Linked DNA regions of Homo sapiens: region 2 is linked to region 1. Evidence: fine-mapped QTL for protein levels in blood plasma. A gene starts in region 1. The other region holds a variant in brackets. All regions are shown on one strand. Distances are between the middles of the regions. Region 1 holds the start of GALNT5 (polypeptide N-acetylgalactosaminyltransferase 5). Region 2 has its middle 72 kb from the start of GALNT5.

The links. A credible set is the group of variants that fine-mapping cannot tell apart. PIP is the chance, under the fine-mapping model, that this variant and not a neighbour inherited with it causes the effect. Protein levels are from antibody-based Olink assays in UK Biobank. Linkage for the fine-mapping came from a reference panel and not from the study's own genotypes, which makes the PIPs less certain.
Region 2: its variant is the best candidate, but not a certain one, in a credible set for the plasma level of the GALNT5 protein (UK Biobank, PIP 0.85).

The regions. Positions count from the first base shown.
Region 1 is chr2:157,250,220-157,258,499 of GRCh38, forward strand. GALNT5 (polypeptide N-acetylgalactosaminyltransferase 5) reads left to right here and starts at 7,486. Exons shown (of 10, transcript NM_014568.3): 1 at 7,486-8,280. The coding sequence starts at 7,864.
Region 2 is chr2:157,181,316-157,189,661 of GRCh38, forward strand. No RefSeq gene overlaps it. Among named protein-coding and RNA genes, the nearest start is that of GALNT5, 72 kb to the right of the region's middle. The variant A/G (reference allele first, on the strand shown) is at 3,653.

The DNA of each region.
Region 1 (8,280 bases):
AATGTTGGCTTAGCCTCACTACTCAAAAATCAATGAAAACTGAGGTCTAAACACAATAAATTGTCTTTCAATAATAGGGTTCTTGTTTTTTTAAACTTAGGCTTAACCAATTATGATTTATCACTAATACAGGCAACCCTTTTCAAGAACAAATGTGTAAAGGGTATACTGATTCTCTTGGTCTTAGGAAATAAGGTCATTTGTTAGTCAGCTTCCAAATTTTATTTAAAAAGAGACATACACCAATGTTTAATGACTGCCAGAAGTTGTAACTATTCATCTTCATTGGAAGAATTAGTTAAAATGGAATAATATTTCCATTTGTATTTTTACTCTACCTGTTGATATTGCAATAATGCCTGCCTTTTAGTATATGATTTTAAAACTTTTCTTTCCTTTTATGGATTTGTTTCACAGGATGTTATTATCCAGTTGATTACAACTTGTCTCTTCTCTAAAAAAGAGAAAGAGAGAATTTGGAAAGAAAAAAATCACATTAAAATCCGAAAAAAACAGTAATTAGTATTTACTTGGTTTTCCCATTTAAATTTTCTAATTAGTATCTTCATCCTGTATTGTCTGAAGTCGCAATGAGTTGAAATTAATTATCCATGTGGATATCCAATTTTTCCAACACCATTTATTGAATAAACTACCTTTTCCACTTTATGCATTCTTGGCTGTTTTGTCAAAGAACAACTGATTGTAAACTTGTGGATTTATTTCCGGGCTCTCTGTTCTGTGCCATTGGTCTATGTGGCTGATTTTATGGCAGTATCATATACTTTTTATTGACACAGAGTCTTGCTCTGTCACCCAACCTGGAGAACAGCAGTACAAACTCGGTTCACTGCAACCTCGACCTCTTGAGCTCAAGCTATCCTCCCACCTCTGCCTCCCAAGTAGCTAGGACCATAGAGGTGCACCACGATGCCCTGCTAATTTTTTTATTTTTTGTAGAGATGGGGGTCTCATAATGTTGCCCAGGCTTGTCTCAAGACAGTAGTATACTATTTTGATTGCTATAACTTGGTAGCATATTTTTGAAGTCAGGTACTATGATGCCTCTAGCTTCTTCTTTCTCAAGATTTTTTTGACTATTCGATATCTTTTATGGTTCCATACAAATTTTAGGATTTTTTTTCTATGTCTGTGAAAAACGCCAGAATTTTGATAGACATTTTATTGAATTTATAGATGACTTTGGTTTGTATGAACATTTTAAGAATACTAATTATTTCAATCTGTGAACACAGTATATATTTCCATTTGTTTATGTCTTCCATTTCTTTCATCAATATTTTATAGTTTTCAGTACACAGAGATTTCACCTTCTTAGTTAAAAATGCTTTCATCTCCTTGGTTAAAAAATATTTATTCCTAAGTACTTTTATGCTATTGTAAATAGGCTTGTTTGCTTAATTTCTTTGTGGTTTAAAATCAACTCAATGTTGATTAAAGACCTAAACAGAAGACCTAAAAGTGTAAAACTACTGAAAGTAAACACAGGGAAAAATCTTGACATTGGTCTGAGTGGTGATTATTTGGAACTCCGAAAGCACAGATAACAAAAACAAAAATAGACAAATGACACTGCAGGAAACTAAAAAGTTTCTGCACAGCCAAGAAAACAATCAACAGAGTGAAAAGACAACCTATGGATGACAGACTATATTTGCAAACCATACATCCAATAAGGAGTTAATATCTCAAATATATAACCATGTTTATTGCGCTCCTACTGATTGACAAAGAGCTCAACTCAATATCAAGAAAGCAACTGGATTTAAAAATAGGGAAAAAAAATGAGTAGACCTTTTTCAAAAGAAGACATACAAATGGCCAACAGGCATATTTTTAAAATGCTTAACATCACTAATCAGTAAGGAAGTGCAAATCAAAACCACAATAAGATATCACCTCATACATTTTGGAATGGCTATGATGAAAAAGATATAAGATAACAAGTGTTGGTAAGGATATGGAGAAAGGGGAACACTTGTACACTGATGGTGGGAATGTAAATTAGTACAACCATTATCGAAAACAGTGTGGAGTTTCCTCAAAAAAACTAAAAAATAGAATTACCATATGACCCAGCAATCACACTTCTGGCTATATATCCAGAGGAAATTAAATCAGCACCTTGAAGAGATAGCTGCAGTCTCATGTTCGTTGCACCATTACGCATAATAGCCTAGATATGGAATTCACCTAAGTGTCCATCAACAGATGAATGAATAAAGAAAGTGCAACATACATACATATATATCACACACACACACACACACACACACACACACACACACAAGAATGTTATTTTGCCTCAAAAAAGAAGAAAATCCTATCATTTGCAACACTGTGGATGAACCTGGAGGACGTTACACTAAGTGAAATAAGCCAGGCATAGAAAGACAAATACTGCATGATCTCATTCATATGCGGAAGCTAAAAAATTGAACTCATAGAAGTAGAGAGTAGAATGGTGGTTACTGCGGGTTGGGGGATGGAGAAAGTTGGAAGGTATTGGTCAAAGAATACAAAGTTTCAGTTACGCAGGATTAGTAAGTTCTGGAGAGCTAATGTACAGCCTGATGACCATAGTTGATAATAATATATTGTATACTTGAAACTTGCTAAGAGAGTAGATCTTAAATGTTCTCACCACACACAAAAAAAGATAATTATGTGAGATAATGGAGATCAGCTGCATTGAGGCAATCATACCACAATGTATAAGGCTATCCAAAGTCATGTTGTACACCTTAAATATTTAATATATGTATCATTTTATTAGTCAATTATAGCTCAGTAAAACTGGGGAAAAAGAAATTCAGTGATGCATCCATGGATAATCATTATTCTCTGTAAAATATACATTTAAATTAATTTTCCTTTTACATCTTTCTTTTTACTTAGGAGTGAGTAGTTGAGTAAATATCATAAAATAAAACAGATATTAGTTACTTAGGATATACTCACATAGTCAAGAAATCTTCAAATACCCAGATAAAGTAACTGTAGATGCAAAGCCAGAGAGCTGGAACCGGTGTTTCTAAGATTCTGTACTTCCATCAGGGAGATTTAAGGCTAGATATAAAACAGTGTTTACTGAGCTCCTACTTGATTAACAATGAGGATGATTCAAAGACATTTGCCATGAGAATATAACACAAATATACTTTTCACTCTAACTTTATGCAGATCTGTTTTGCTGAACAGTTTTTGATCTAGTCTGAGAAAATTAAATGTTGAGGATTAAATGAGATACCGTGAAGTGACTAGTGGTAGGCCCTCAGTAAATTCCCAATGAAAGGTTGCTATTAATATGATTATCCTGACAACAACCAAATAGAGTAGAGGGCAAGTCCTCCTACTATTATGCTCGTTTTACAGAAGAAGAAACTAAAATCTGTTTTTAAATGTTTAGTACAAGCTGGAGTCAGACTGATAATTGGAATAACCCCTCCAAATGTCTCCCAAGGATAATTCGTAACTCCAGATTTTCAGATGGATATCATCTCCAACTAAGTATGTACAGATTCTTGAGAAATTTGACCAGCCAAAGGTACCTGCATTCTACGACTTGGGATGACAAGCCAGGCTCCCTAACTGTGGGGTACCTCAAATAACCAACCCACTTACGTATTTAGTTTCCTGCTGGTAACATGGAAATTAATACAACTAAAATTTTAGAAGCACCGTCATTTACCAATATACAAATGTCATGTGTTGGGCAATATGTGTGTTGATGAAAAGGTAGAATTTCCTAATATCCTTTTTTTTCTATTCCTTTTACCTATGCAATTCATTGATCTGAGATGTGAAACAGCATGTGTGTCGGAAAAGAGAAAAAAAAGGAGAAAGATGTACAGCTATGAGGGCCACAGAAATTATTACTGAGTGCCTGAAGACACATAGTGTTGAATTAGTGGTATGGCTTATAACCAACTTCTACCATCATCACAGATTATCATAAACTCACAAGGGAAAAGACCAAGAAGAGGCTGGGAAGAGAACCTTACACAAGCTTTTCCATGTGTGACACATCCATAGTCATATGGCTATTAGTGGCCAAGTCAGTACTTTAGACCAGGTCTGACAACAAATCTACTCCTCCATTTCTAGGATATTTAATCAATGTTTCCTTACTCTCCTACCCACTCTTCACATTTCATTCTGAATTGTATGTCAAATAGACCGAAGACTAAGCCAGAGTTAATGTGTTGCTTTACCCATGATAGATAAGCCAAGATTCCCTTTTAATTTTCTTAACATGTTGCTCTCCTGTTGCAAGTAATTTGTGTTTTGATTCGCAAGGACAAACCAGAGAGGGATAAAAAGAAATCAGTACTCTTTGATAAAATTTATATGGAAACAAGAATATATTTCAAGCAGTGTTTTAAACTGCCAAGCATAGAATATAACAAGTGTTGACTTTCCTAAAAGACATTTGAGTAATTCCAACTGCCATTTGGGGTGGGATGGTGGCTGGACAAGATTGAATCATGCAGAGTAAAATAATTTTAAAGTATTCTATTTTCATGTTTAAAACAATATTGTAATGCAAACCATTTATCCATGATGCTAAAAAAAATTCTCACTTTATTTTCGAATGTGGATGCTAAAGATGTGTGCTATGTTTTTTGCTGGTGGCGTTCTTTTTTTATTATTATTATTATTATACTGGTGGCGTTCTACTGAGGGGAGTTTTAAGGTTGTTAGGGGCAGAGACAATGTCACCTACTTCATGTTTTGGGCATGTAGGGAGTTCTCAGTGAACAATGGTCTTGTTAAATCTATAATTAGAGGAAATAAGAATGGCAAGAATAAAATAAAATACTCAGATTTGTTTCTTCCCCATTGCCAGAATCATGTTAGTCACTAGTTTTCTACTTGTTTTTTTGGGAAGAGCTGGTACATTGCCTCCCACATGCATCCGACACTCCTATTACAGCAAAGTATTAGCAACAATATGAATGGCTAACATTTAAAGAGTACCTTCAATATAACAATAACTTTAACCATTTTTAAATATTCTCACATTAATCTGCAAAGCAGAATTTTTTTTTATTGCTCAGTAACCACATAAAATTAACTAGCCTGCAAGATCATACAGCTAGAGAGCAGTATTGTGTGATATTGAAGCACACGGACTACAGTCGTGTATTCAAGACCCAACCCCTCCAATCTCTACCAGAAGTTGCTTTACCTCTCTAAGGTTTCATTTGCTGACTACAAAATACATATTGTAATTTACTCCTTCACATTAGATTCTTGTGAGGATTGAGTGAGATAGTCAATGGAAAGAACTTAGCAAAGTGCTTGAGATATATATATGAATTTGGAATCTCTCCTTCCCCTCCCAAGTCATTGGGAACATAAGTTTACCTCAAAGCATGGAAGCTAGACCCTCCCCACACTAGAGTAATGAACAGCAGTGTTGTCCACAAATCACTCAGAGTTCCTCAGAGAGAAGGACAGTGGTCCCGAGAAGTGCTTCTCAAACTCTATGGACAATCTTTACAACTGGCAATGTCAAAATGTGTATTCTGATTTAGTTGTTATGGGAATGCATAGATTTTATTAGACTGTACTTTAGACAGGGAAGGAATGTCACACAAGTTGTAGACTGTATTGGCCAGGATTTTTCAGAGAAACAGAACCAATAGGATTCATAGAGGTAGATAAGTGAGTTGCAGTTTATTACAGGAATTGGCTCATGTGGTTATGGAGACTGAGAAACCTCAGTCCAGGCCACCTGCAAGCTGGAGAACCAGGAAAGCCAGTAACATGGCACATTCTGAGTCCAAAGGCCTGAGAACCAGGGAAGCCAATAACATCACTCTCAGTCTGAGGTCAAAAGCCTGAGAACCTAGTGAGGGATGTGGAGGTTGTGGGGGCAGACTGGTACAAGCCCCAGAGGCCAAAGCCAGAGAATCTAAAGTTCTAGTCCAAAGGCAGAAGAAGAAAGATGTCCCAGCTCACTAACAGAGACAGAATCCACCTTTCCTCTGCCTTTTTTTCTATCTGGGCCCTCAACCAATTAGTGGTGCCTGCCCACATTGGGTGAGGGCATCTCCTCCCCACTCAGTGCACTGAGTCAAATGCCAATCTCTTCTGGAAACACCCTCACAGATATACCTAAAAATAATGCTTTACTGGTTCTCTGGGTGTTCCTTAGCCCAGTCAAGTAGACACCTAAAATTAAATGTCTCATAGGCAATGTTCAAAAACCAAAAACAAACAAACAAAAAATTGAGACTTTTTTTCTAGACCAGTGTTTCTCAACTTTAGCTGCACATTTGAAAGACCTGGGAAGCTTTGTAAAAAAAAAAAAAAAAAAAAAAATATATATATATATATATATATATATATATATATATATATATATTTAATACAATATCAGCCCAAATGTCATCTCCACCTCCTCTCTCATCAATTGACCAGAGTTTTGGGGATCTTGTTTCAAGTGGTTCTAATGAAAAGCCTGTGGCGGAACTGCTACCCTACCAGTCAACCAGCATCACTCAAAATCTGGTCCAAGTCCTGGTGTGGTCCTGAAACTGTTGCTTGCTGGTTTAAGACGAGATAAGTACTGAAACTGAGAGTAAGTGTATCTTAATCTGTTCAGGCTACTATAGAAGAATAACATAGACTAAGTGACTCATAAACAACAGAAACTTATTTCTCACAGTTCTAGAGACTGAGAAGTCAGAAATCAAGGCACCAGCAGATTCGTTGACTGGTGAAGGCCCATTTCCTGGTTCATAGATGGCACCTTCTCATTATGTCTTCACTTTGTGGAATGGCAAGGCAATAGGGCCTCTTTTTTAAGGGTGCTGATCCCATTCATGAGGGCTCTATCCTTATAATGAAATCACCTTCAAAAGCCCTACCTCCTAATACTATCACATTTATGATTAGGTTTCAACATATGAATTTTGGGTGGACATAAACATTCAGACCATAACAAAGTGTTTAGAAACTTTTATAGCAGTATGACAAATTAAGTTTATTTGTAATCAAATGTAATAATAAAAACAGATGGATTAGTGAAAAAAAAATAGTTGGCTTACAAAGAAATACATTGAAACCCCTTGAATGAATGATCTAAATAATTAAACATATACATCTCTGGAAGTGAGGATATACCAGGCCCCTTCTTTAAGCTGTTATGTCTTAAAGCTGAAATGTTAACTTCAGTGATAAATTCCTCAGGCAGAGCATTGGCACCTGGCTACAACAGGGTTAATGAGCAGGAGTAGGGTAGGTGGGGTCACAAACCAGGAACACATGCCCTCCAAGTTAGATAGCTTTTTTTCCTCTTTAATTGCCGTTTAAACACACATGCTCTCACATAACACAGAAGGTGAGAGCTGAATGAAGTTTTCTGGGTAATGGCATGAAATGTTTTCCTTATGAGAAGTGGTGTTGAGTTACAGCGTGCAGACGGAGAACGGGGAGGAGAGAAACGGCAGTCTCAATCTGGCCCCCACCTTTTCTTGGGCTTGTAGGAAGGTGGACATGGGCTCCCGGAGACAAGACAAGTGATATGTTGAACTGTTCGGTGGCTGGAATCAACTGCTCCTGGAGTGACCTAAGGCCAGTGTTTATCAGAACTTAGCCAGGGCCAGCCAAGCAGGCACAGATGCTCTGCTATGAAATGCCACGCAGGCAGAGACTGACAAGCGGTAGGAACTGAGCTTTCCCCTTGGACTGCTGCTTCCTGCTGTGTTCAGGGGAGGGGGTCACTTTCTGGCAACTCTGCTGCTGCTGCTGCTGCTGCTGCTACTTCAGCTTCCTCTCCACTCAAGGTAAGCAGGCTAAGGGAGGGCAGGCTGCTAGGGAAAGCTTTGTACCATGAACAGGATCCGAAAGTTTTTCCGAGGAAGTGGGCGAGTCTTGGCATTTATCTTTGTAGCTTCTGTCATCTGGCTCCTCTTTGACATGGCAGCTCTCCGCCTCTCATTCAGTGAGATCAACACTCGGGTCATCAAGGAAGACATTGTGAGGAGGGAGCGGATAGGATTCAGAGTTCAGCCAGACCAAGGAAAAATTTTTTACAGCAGCATAAAAGAGATGAAACCTCCCCTAAGGGGACATGGGAAAGGGGCATGGGGCAAAGAGAATGTTAGAAAAACTGAGGAGAGTGTGCTCAAGGTTGAGGTGGACTTGGACCAAACCCAGAGGGAAAGAAAAATGCAGAATGCCCTGGGAAGGGGCAAGGTTGTGCCGTTGTGGCATCCTGCACATCTGCAGACCCTCCCTGTGACTCCT
Region 2 (8,346 bases), 69 kb before region 1:
GAAGCATGCAATAAAAAAACCATAATATATAAGAAATTATAAACTACGTTAAAAGTTTTTCTTCATCTTTGAGAAACATGATCTTGAGAAACAACACATTGCTTAATCAGACGCCTCCCTGATACATATTTAGATTGTTACTAGGGCATTTCCCTAGGAGGCCAACTTACTAGAGCTAGAGATAAACTAGATGTGCCTTTCTAGACTTAAAAATGACAAATGCCAAGCTTGTGTGGGTTTGGAGAGAGAAATGTGTATGTATGCATATAGGTTTAAGTTTAAACACCTTATGGACTACTATCAAATCTCACATACATGTCTTAAGCTCTAAATCCTATATCCTTAGCACCATACAATGCTGCCTTTCCAAGGAATTAAGCAAGCTTGTTGGAATCTATGAAGGGACAATTGTGAATTGAAGCAGTGATATGCCTAAATGTTTAGAAAGTCAACAAACACATATGCAAGTCAATATAAATACAGAAATAGGTCAGTAATTCCTTTTTACTACTTAGGAAGATGTACTATTCATTTAGAAAGCTAAGGAGAGACAAAATGTCTTTATACTAATTCCCTTAATTTAATCACACCAAATGTCAGGACAGTGTCATTTAAAATCCTTTAATGATTTTAAAACAAATGGTCCCTGTAGCAGAAAAATAGTTGAACTAACATTGCTAACATTAATTTAATTTCTTTGGAATTGAAATATTAAATGAACCCATTTTATCCCATTTACTTTTCAAATAGTGTTAGGAAATACCTGAGGACCTCTCAGCAAAAATCTAATAGGATCCTCCAATTTGTTCACCAGTTCAGGAGAACTATAATAGTGTATGAATTTAGTCTTTAGTAAATTCTATTTAATACATAAAAGAGAGTCTATTATTGCTATGTATGTTTCTCTACAACCTTTCTTTGTGAAGATTACAGGCCCAATTTATCAACATCAGAAACTTACTTAGCATGGTTGCGTATTCTATATATATTTTTTCCAACGTTAATGTGAGTCATCATAGCATATCTCCTTAACCATATGTGCTAGAGCTAAGGACAGACAGTTATTTTAATATTCCTGGCCTAGAATCCTTCCCACAACAAACACATTTGATGCTCATACATGGTCCCTTTCTTGCCGACACTCACGCCTGTCAAAATGGCATGGTGCCTACTCAACATATGGACTGCTAGCTTTTCTCACTGGGGCACAGTTGCCAAAGAAAGATGGGTTAAGCTGGGCACCCTGCGTAGCAAAGCAGGTGACAGCTCTCCCGTCCTCCATCATGTGGCTGTAAATCCTCTAGCCACATGCCACTTCCTACCCTATCTTTTACAGGAAAAGGAAAAGGAGAGGGATCTTTAACAGTATTCCTTTGACTTTCAGACTGTTTCTACTTAGTGCCTTTGCTCTCACTACCTTATATTCATGGAAAGGAAATCTATCCTCTGCCAAAAACACATTGAAATTTAAAAATCATTTGGAAGCACACAGTTGTAAGAAAAGTTGATAGCCAGCAAAGGCATTAAGTATATGTGTGTGCATGCATGCAAATGCACACACATGCACATACACACACACACACAGGAAATACGTGTTGTTTCCACCCTTGTTTCTCATTTTCCACCTAGAATAGACTAGAGCTGGGTGGCCACAGCAGCATTAAGTGTTGAAGATAGAACTTAGTGATTGTTTAAGTCTTGTACAAATAGAGCTGTTTGATTACGTTAATCCAGTGAATCATTTCCTCCCTAACCAGGCTACATCCTGTTTGGTTTGCAATTTTTATTTTAAAATTTCCAAATCAATTTTTATTTGTCCAAATGAGTTTGTTTTGGCAATAACAGAAAAGTATCAAGTTTCCCCAAACAAAGACTTTTCCTCATGTCTTTGTGTCTTCGTCATTCTACAGGAAACCCAAATAAGGTGTCAGTCTGAGTCTGTCTTCTGAGTCCAGAGACTACAGGGATTCCTCCTTCCATCTTACCAAACAAACCCATCTGAACTAAGAGATTAAATTTAAATTGTGGCCTGGGGTTGAGGCCATGGATCAACTAATTAATTATTACCCCTGCCTGCTCTGTGCCAGGGACTTTTAGAGCAATTTTCTCATTTTATCGTGAGAGCATGTCTGCAATGTAGGAGTCGGCATTACTTCCATTTTAGAGGTGGTATAGAAATCTGATCGATAATCTCTGCATGATAGCTAGTTAGCACTGTTCTTTAATAATAAAAATAGCTAATATTTATTAAAATTTTACTGTGCACTGTTCTAAAAATCCTATGCATCTCGGCTCATTTACAAAGACATGAGGGAATCCCTGTCAATATCTATAATGTATAGCTGAGGAAAAGGAGGCACTGAGAAGTTAACTGATTTATCTAAGGTCACAACTACTAAGTAGAGCTACCAGAATTCATACCTGTATAGTCTGACTCTTGAGCTGTTGTTCTTAGCCACTGCTTTAATTATTCTAGGTGATACTTATACACATTCTCCAACAATTCTTTTTTTTTTTTTTTTTTTTGAGACTTGCTCTGTCTCCCAGGCTGGAGTGCAGTGGCACGATTTCAGCTCACTCACTCCACCTCCTGGATTCAAGCAATTCTCTTGCCTCAGCCTCCCGAGTAGCTGGGATTACAGGCGTGCATCACCATGACCGGCTAATTTTTTTTTTTTTTTTTTTTTTTTTTTGTATTTTTAGTGGAGACGGGGTTTCACCATGTTGGCCAGGCTGGTCTCTAGTGATCCACCTCCACACACATGTACATACACACACACACAGGAAATACGTGTTGTTTCCACCCTTGTTTCTCGTTTTCCACCTAGAATAGACTAGAGCTGGGTGGCGACAGCAGCCTGACCTCCAGTGATCCACCCGCCTCTGCCTCCCAAAGTGCTGGGATTACAGGCATTAGCCACTGCACCCGACCTCCAACAATTCTTTAGTCTTGTTCCTTGTTTGTACCTTAAGGACCAAGAATCATGCTACTTTAAAGCACAATTTCATCATGCTGCTGCTCTGCTGGGAATCCTCTCCAGCTCTCCATTTCCAAACAAACAAACAAAAAGTTAGATTACCATCTTGGCATTTAAGACACCAAATATATTCTGGTTTCTATCAAACCTTCCAAGCTGACTCTTCCAATTTGGTCTTGTATGTTCTACCCTTGACCATCTTTACACATTTACTTGTGTGATTTTTTTGTTCCTAGTCTGTGGTGTCCTTGCTGTTTCTCCTTATCCATGCAAAACATCTCAGGTTCTATTTCTACTATGAGTATTCCCTCTATCCACTTCATCTCACAGCAATTTCCCCAACCACTAAATCTCTGGAGCACTTGCCAAGGTATCACTTGCTCAGAATGCTCAACAATACTGTCATTGCAATGCTGCTCAGAATGTTGAGCATATACCATGCACTGTTCTCAGATGTGTAATCTCCCCATTAGCATAGTATGTATAATCTCCCCAATCTCTTTGAAACAATAAATCATGCCTGTATTTTTGTGGTATGTCATAATACCTACTACATTTCTTGAACAAGCCATGTCTTGAACAGTCTCCAATAATTTGTGTCTACCATTGTATTTCTAGATTTGTACTCCTTGAGAGTGATTCTTTTTGAAAGTTTTGAGTTTCGTAAGGCCTCA[A/G]TTACAAACTTAGATGTGATCACTTTACAAAAGGTTACCTTCTAACCAGTACCAACTATTTGCATCATTCTGAAAGATCAGTATCAATATGAGGAAAAAAGAATTCTATCTCAATAATAGACCTCTCAAAGATGAATTCCTTCCAAACATCATGTTTTATAAAAGAGTGAAGGTTTTAATTTCTTAATAGTTTTAGTTACATATGCCAGGAAATGGAAGGCCACTATTACATTTATTTCATTTTTTAAACATCATACTATCTATCATTTGCATGAATAAATACATCACCCAAAATGAAAACTTTTATTATTCTGAGAAAATAAGATCTGTGCATTTGCTGCTTAATTTTTAATAGTCAATTGTTACTTAGAATTAATTTAAAAGTTCATTTAGTAATATATATGAACAAATATTAGTGGTATTCCTGGAAAACCTTTTCTGCAGTCCTGCCAAGCATCCAGAAAATTGTCTTGTTGACTTCTCAAGGGTGTTTCAACTCTTTGATTCTAGGAATCCAGGATTCTTTGCCTGTCTACCCCCTCTGGTTAAAGGCAACCACTTTGGTCTCATTCTCTCTCACGCATTTTGGAAGGTCTCCAAGTGTAAAATGGTACAACATATGTAGCCTGCAAGCAGGGCAGGCATAAGAAACACCATAAGGATACACTAAAGCAAACTTCAAGCTGTGGAACGCTGGGAAACAATCACAGGCAACACACCAACTTGGCATAAAACAATCAGAGAATGAGGTGGCTTTTTTCAAGCAAAAGCATCATACTGGCTGAGGCGAAGAGGACCACAAAGATAGAAATATTGTACCCAGCAGTTAATGCTGCTAGCCAAGAGTGATCTTCAGAGGTACAGTGCAGAAAGGGGTGATGGTCACACGTTCTTCCCATTTATATTCACATGCCTGAAAATACTGCCCCAGCATCAGTCTCTTTCACTGTAACTACATATCTATGCATGCTAAATGAAACCTGCTCTATCTTTCCAACCCTTCTTTCCCTAGTGAATTCCTACTCATTCTTAAGAATGCATTTCAAAGGTCAACCTCTCAGCAAAGTCTTCCCTGACTACTCCTGGAAGAGTTAACAGCTCCCTCTTCTGCAGTCTCTCAGTATTTTATGGCATTTATAACATCATGTTATATTTATGTACTTATGGGCCTGTGTTCTGGATATACTGTAAGCTCCTTCAGAGCACAGACCAGGTCCTTTTTATTCACTATCATATCCCAAGTGACCACTATGGTGATCTATACTCAGAAGGCACTGCATATGTTTGTTGGGTGAATAAATGAAAGTACCTATTTCCATCTTTCCTTTATTTGTTTACTAAGTATTTATCAAATGCCTGTTTATGTGCATTGTTCCAGACACTTGAGAAACAGCAGCAAACCACAGACATACACTCTTCCATCATAGAATTATATTATATTGGGGGGAGACAGAAAACAAACATGAAAAATAAAAAGACATTGTTTTTGTTGCATCGTGATAAATGATGAGAGAAATTACAATGCAAAGAAAGGGGACAGGGAATCTTAGAGGAAGGCTGTAACCTCAAATAGGGTGGTTACCTCACGGAGAACATATTATTTAGGTAAACACCTGAGGAGAAGAGGGAGAGGGCCTCATAAATATCAGAGAAAAAGAGGAGTACAGAGAAAAGCACAAGCACAAAGGCCTTGGGCAGGAAAGGATTTGAAAGCATTCAATGTCTACATATAGTTCCCAGAATGTGGCAGAATAATGTACAATGAATTGATCTAGGAGACTCAATAAAATAAGTAAAGCATTAAAGTAATTTACAAAAGAGACTCAAGGAATTTAGACATTGACTCTAAGTATTTAAGATAATGTAATTCCAAAGCATTCTCTATCAACTCAGTAAAATTCAAATTCAATATTGCCCTGTAAAGTCTACAATTTCTGTCAGGGCTGATATTTTTAAGTGGGGAAAATTCCTTTAGGCTCAGTCAGACCAAGGAAGAAAGTCTTAGTTTTTCTTCTCAAACTGACCTACCCTTAGATCAATCTTTCACATGGTTTGGTAAATAAGTCTCTTTATAGTTCATGGGCTAACAATTCCTGATTCATAAAGAATTTTCCTTCTTCTCTCTCAATGGTGCTAACTCTTTGACCTCCATTCTCACACGCTTTGTTTCTGATCCCCAGCTCCCAAACTTCGTGGACCATCTATTTCTTTACCACCATGGCAAATACTCTTGACAGAGCACCAGAGATGCCTGAGCCTTAGAGTCCAGACTTTATCCACCTGATTCTGAAGTCAACCCCATGGTTTTGGAAATTCTCTTGCCACTCTCACTGACCCAACCATCCGCAAAGGTTGAAATAGTCAGTCGGGCACGGTGACTCACGCCTGTAATCCCAGCACTTTGGGAGGCCGAGGCAGGTGGATCACCTGAGGTCAGGAGTTCAAGACCAGCCTGGTCAACATGGTGAAACCCCGTCTCTACTGAAACAAATATAAAAATTAGCTGGGTGTGGTGACGGGCGCCTGTAATCCCAGCTACTTGGGAGGCTGAGGCAGGAGAATTGCTTGAACCTGGGAAGCAGAGGTTGCAGGGAGCCGAGATTGCGCCACTACACTCCAGCCTGGGTGACAATAGTGAGACTCCATCTCAAAAAAAAAAAAAATAGTCAGTCATGATAGGGAAAGGCTGCCCCTTATTTAACTCCCCTCCTCACTGTTTCCTTATTTTGCTGTTTTAAACTGTTATCTCTGCAGCACATCTACAATTCTGCATATAAAGTTTACAGCAAAATAATAAGTTTTATTTTATAAAAAAACTTTATTAAAAATAATTTTCCTATGAACTGAGGGGTGTGAAAGTTGTTTAATACTATAATCATACTAGAATAAAGGCCTTAACCTAGTGTCATTTTGTAAATATGTGCATTTTCACAGGGAGAAAGTCCATAGTTTTCAACAAATTCTCAAGAGAATCAACTATATTTGTAAAATAAGATAGTAAAAACCAAAGAACTGTTTTTTAGGAACATGAATTAACAAGATAAAGAGCCTTCTGCAATGATATTTAGAAGGCAATGTATACCTGCTCAAGATATAGGCAATATTAAAAAAGAGACTATCAGTCAACATTAACTTACCAGACTGATTAAAATTCTGTGCCAATTAAGAAATCTGAAAACTCCAACTAAAAAACAAATATGTATTCTCATTATTAACTATCTATTTTTTAATGAAAGATTATCCAAAAGAGAACAGTTAAGGGCATATGAGAGTTATATAGAAGGCTACAACTAGTGACTTTACCAGTGACCTTACCATACTATTAAAAAATCACTATATACATGCACAAGAATGAAAGTGTATTCTTTCATTGTAGAAATTACAAATACTACTGTATCAAGGTACCACCAAGGTGACTGTTTCAGAACACAGGCCGGGGGACCTATTTTCTGTTCCTGCTTTGGTCTTTGTCTCTCTCCATGCACCTTGAAAAGATGTGTTAGTCTTTATATCTCCTTTTTTTCCCCATAAAGTCACAGAACCACTTGTTTATTATTTACTTTTTAGTGTATTCAGAGAAAATTTTAAATATCAGGCCAGTTTTTCATAACTACTCAAGATATTCTGTTCACTACCATGCAAATACCCCTTCAGGAGATGCAAATTACTTTTATTATTATATTAAGAACTGCAAAGTGAAGCCAAAGAATAATTCAGTGAGTTACATAATATGTGTTCTAAAGATGGATATAAAATAATTTTAAATTATATTTTTGTTGTAATAACAATTCCGTTCATGTTCTCTGCTAGAATATGACAGCATTTGGCAAAGGTGATGCACGAACCCCAGGGTGTTGTACAAGACAGTCAATTAGGTTTGGAAGGAAAATAATTAGCCTTGTACTTATATTTACATTGGCTTTATGATATCATACTCCTTGTTTCCCATCCTTTGTGTATGTGATGCAAAGTAAATAAATTATAGTATTTTATAATATATTGGATACTAGTTTGCTGTAGTCTACATAAGCATACTAGTTTTGATACACTTTATTGTTACTACTACTACTGTCTTATTACTAAATTGTTAATATACTATATAATTATAAAAGAAATATGTAGTGTAGTCCTGTATGCATATAATCTAGTAAACAAATATTCACAGTTTGTAGGGCAAACGCATGCCAAAAAGATTTACTGGCTATGGAGTTTATTATTAAAATCAGTTTGGAGACCACTGGTGCTGTAGTGTGACGCTTAAGGATTCAATCAACAACACACAAGTAAAAATATAAATGTAGAAAAGCACATTGAGTAAGGATAACGGTGTTGCCTTCACTATTGACACCTATGAAATGGAATTTTAATAGGGCATGTTGGAGGGTGGTCAACAGAGACAATTTTGCTAATTAATATGGATGGAGGATGTTACTTTAAGAAGGGTATGGAACACCTGAAAGTGTCTAGTTGAGAAAGAAGAAATAGCAATCGTGTGTGCATGCCTCCCAAGCGCCTTGTTGGCCTGTCTCTCTCAAGAAGTGTATGATTAAGACATACAAGTTTCCAGTCATCAGTGTAAACAGGATTTTGATTTGGTTTGGGAAAGCAAGCATAAAGAAATTATACGTATCAAAAAGAGTAGATAGGTCACAGTGTCTGTAGTTCTTATGGAAGAGGGAAGCACAAAAAGCCCA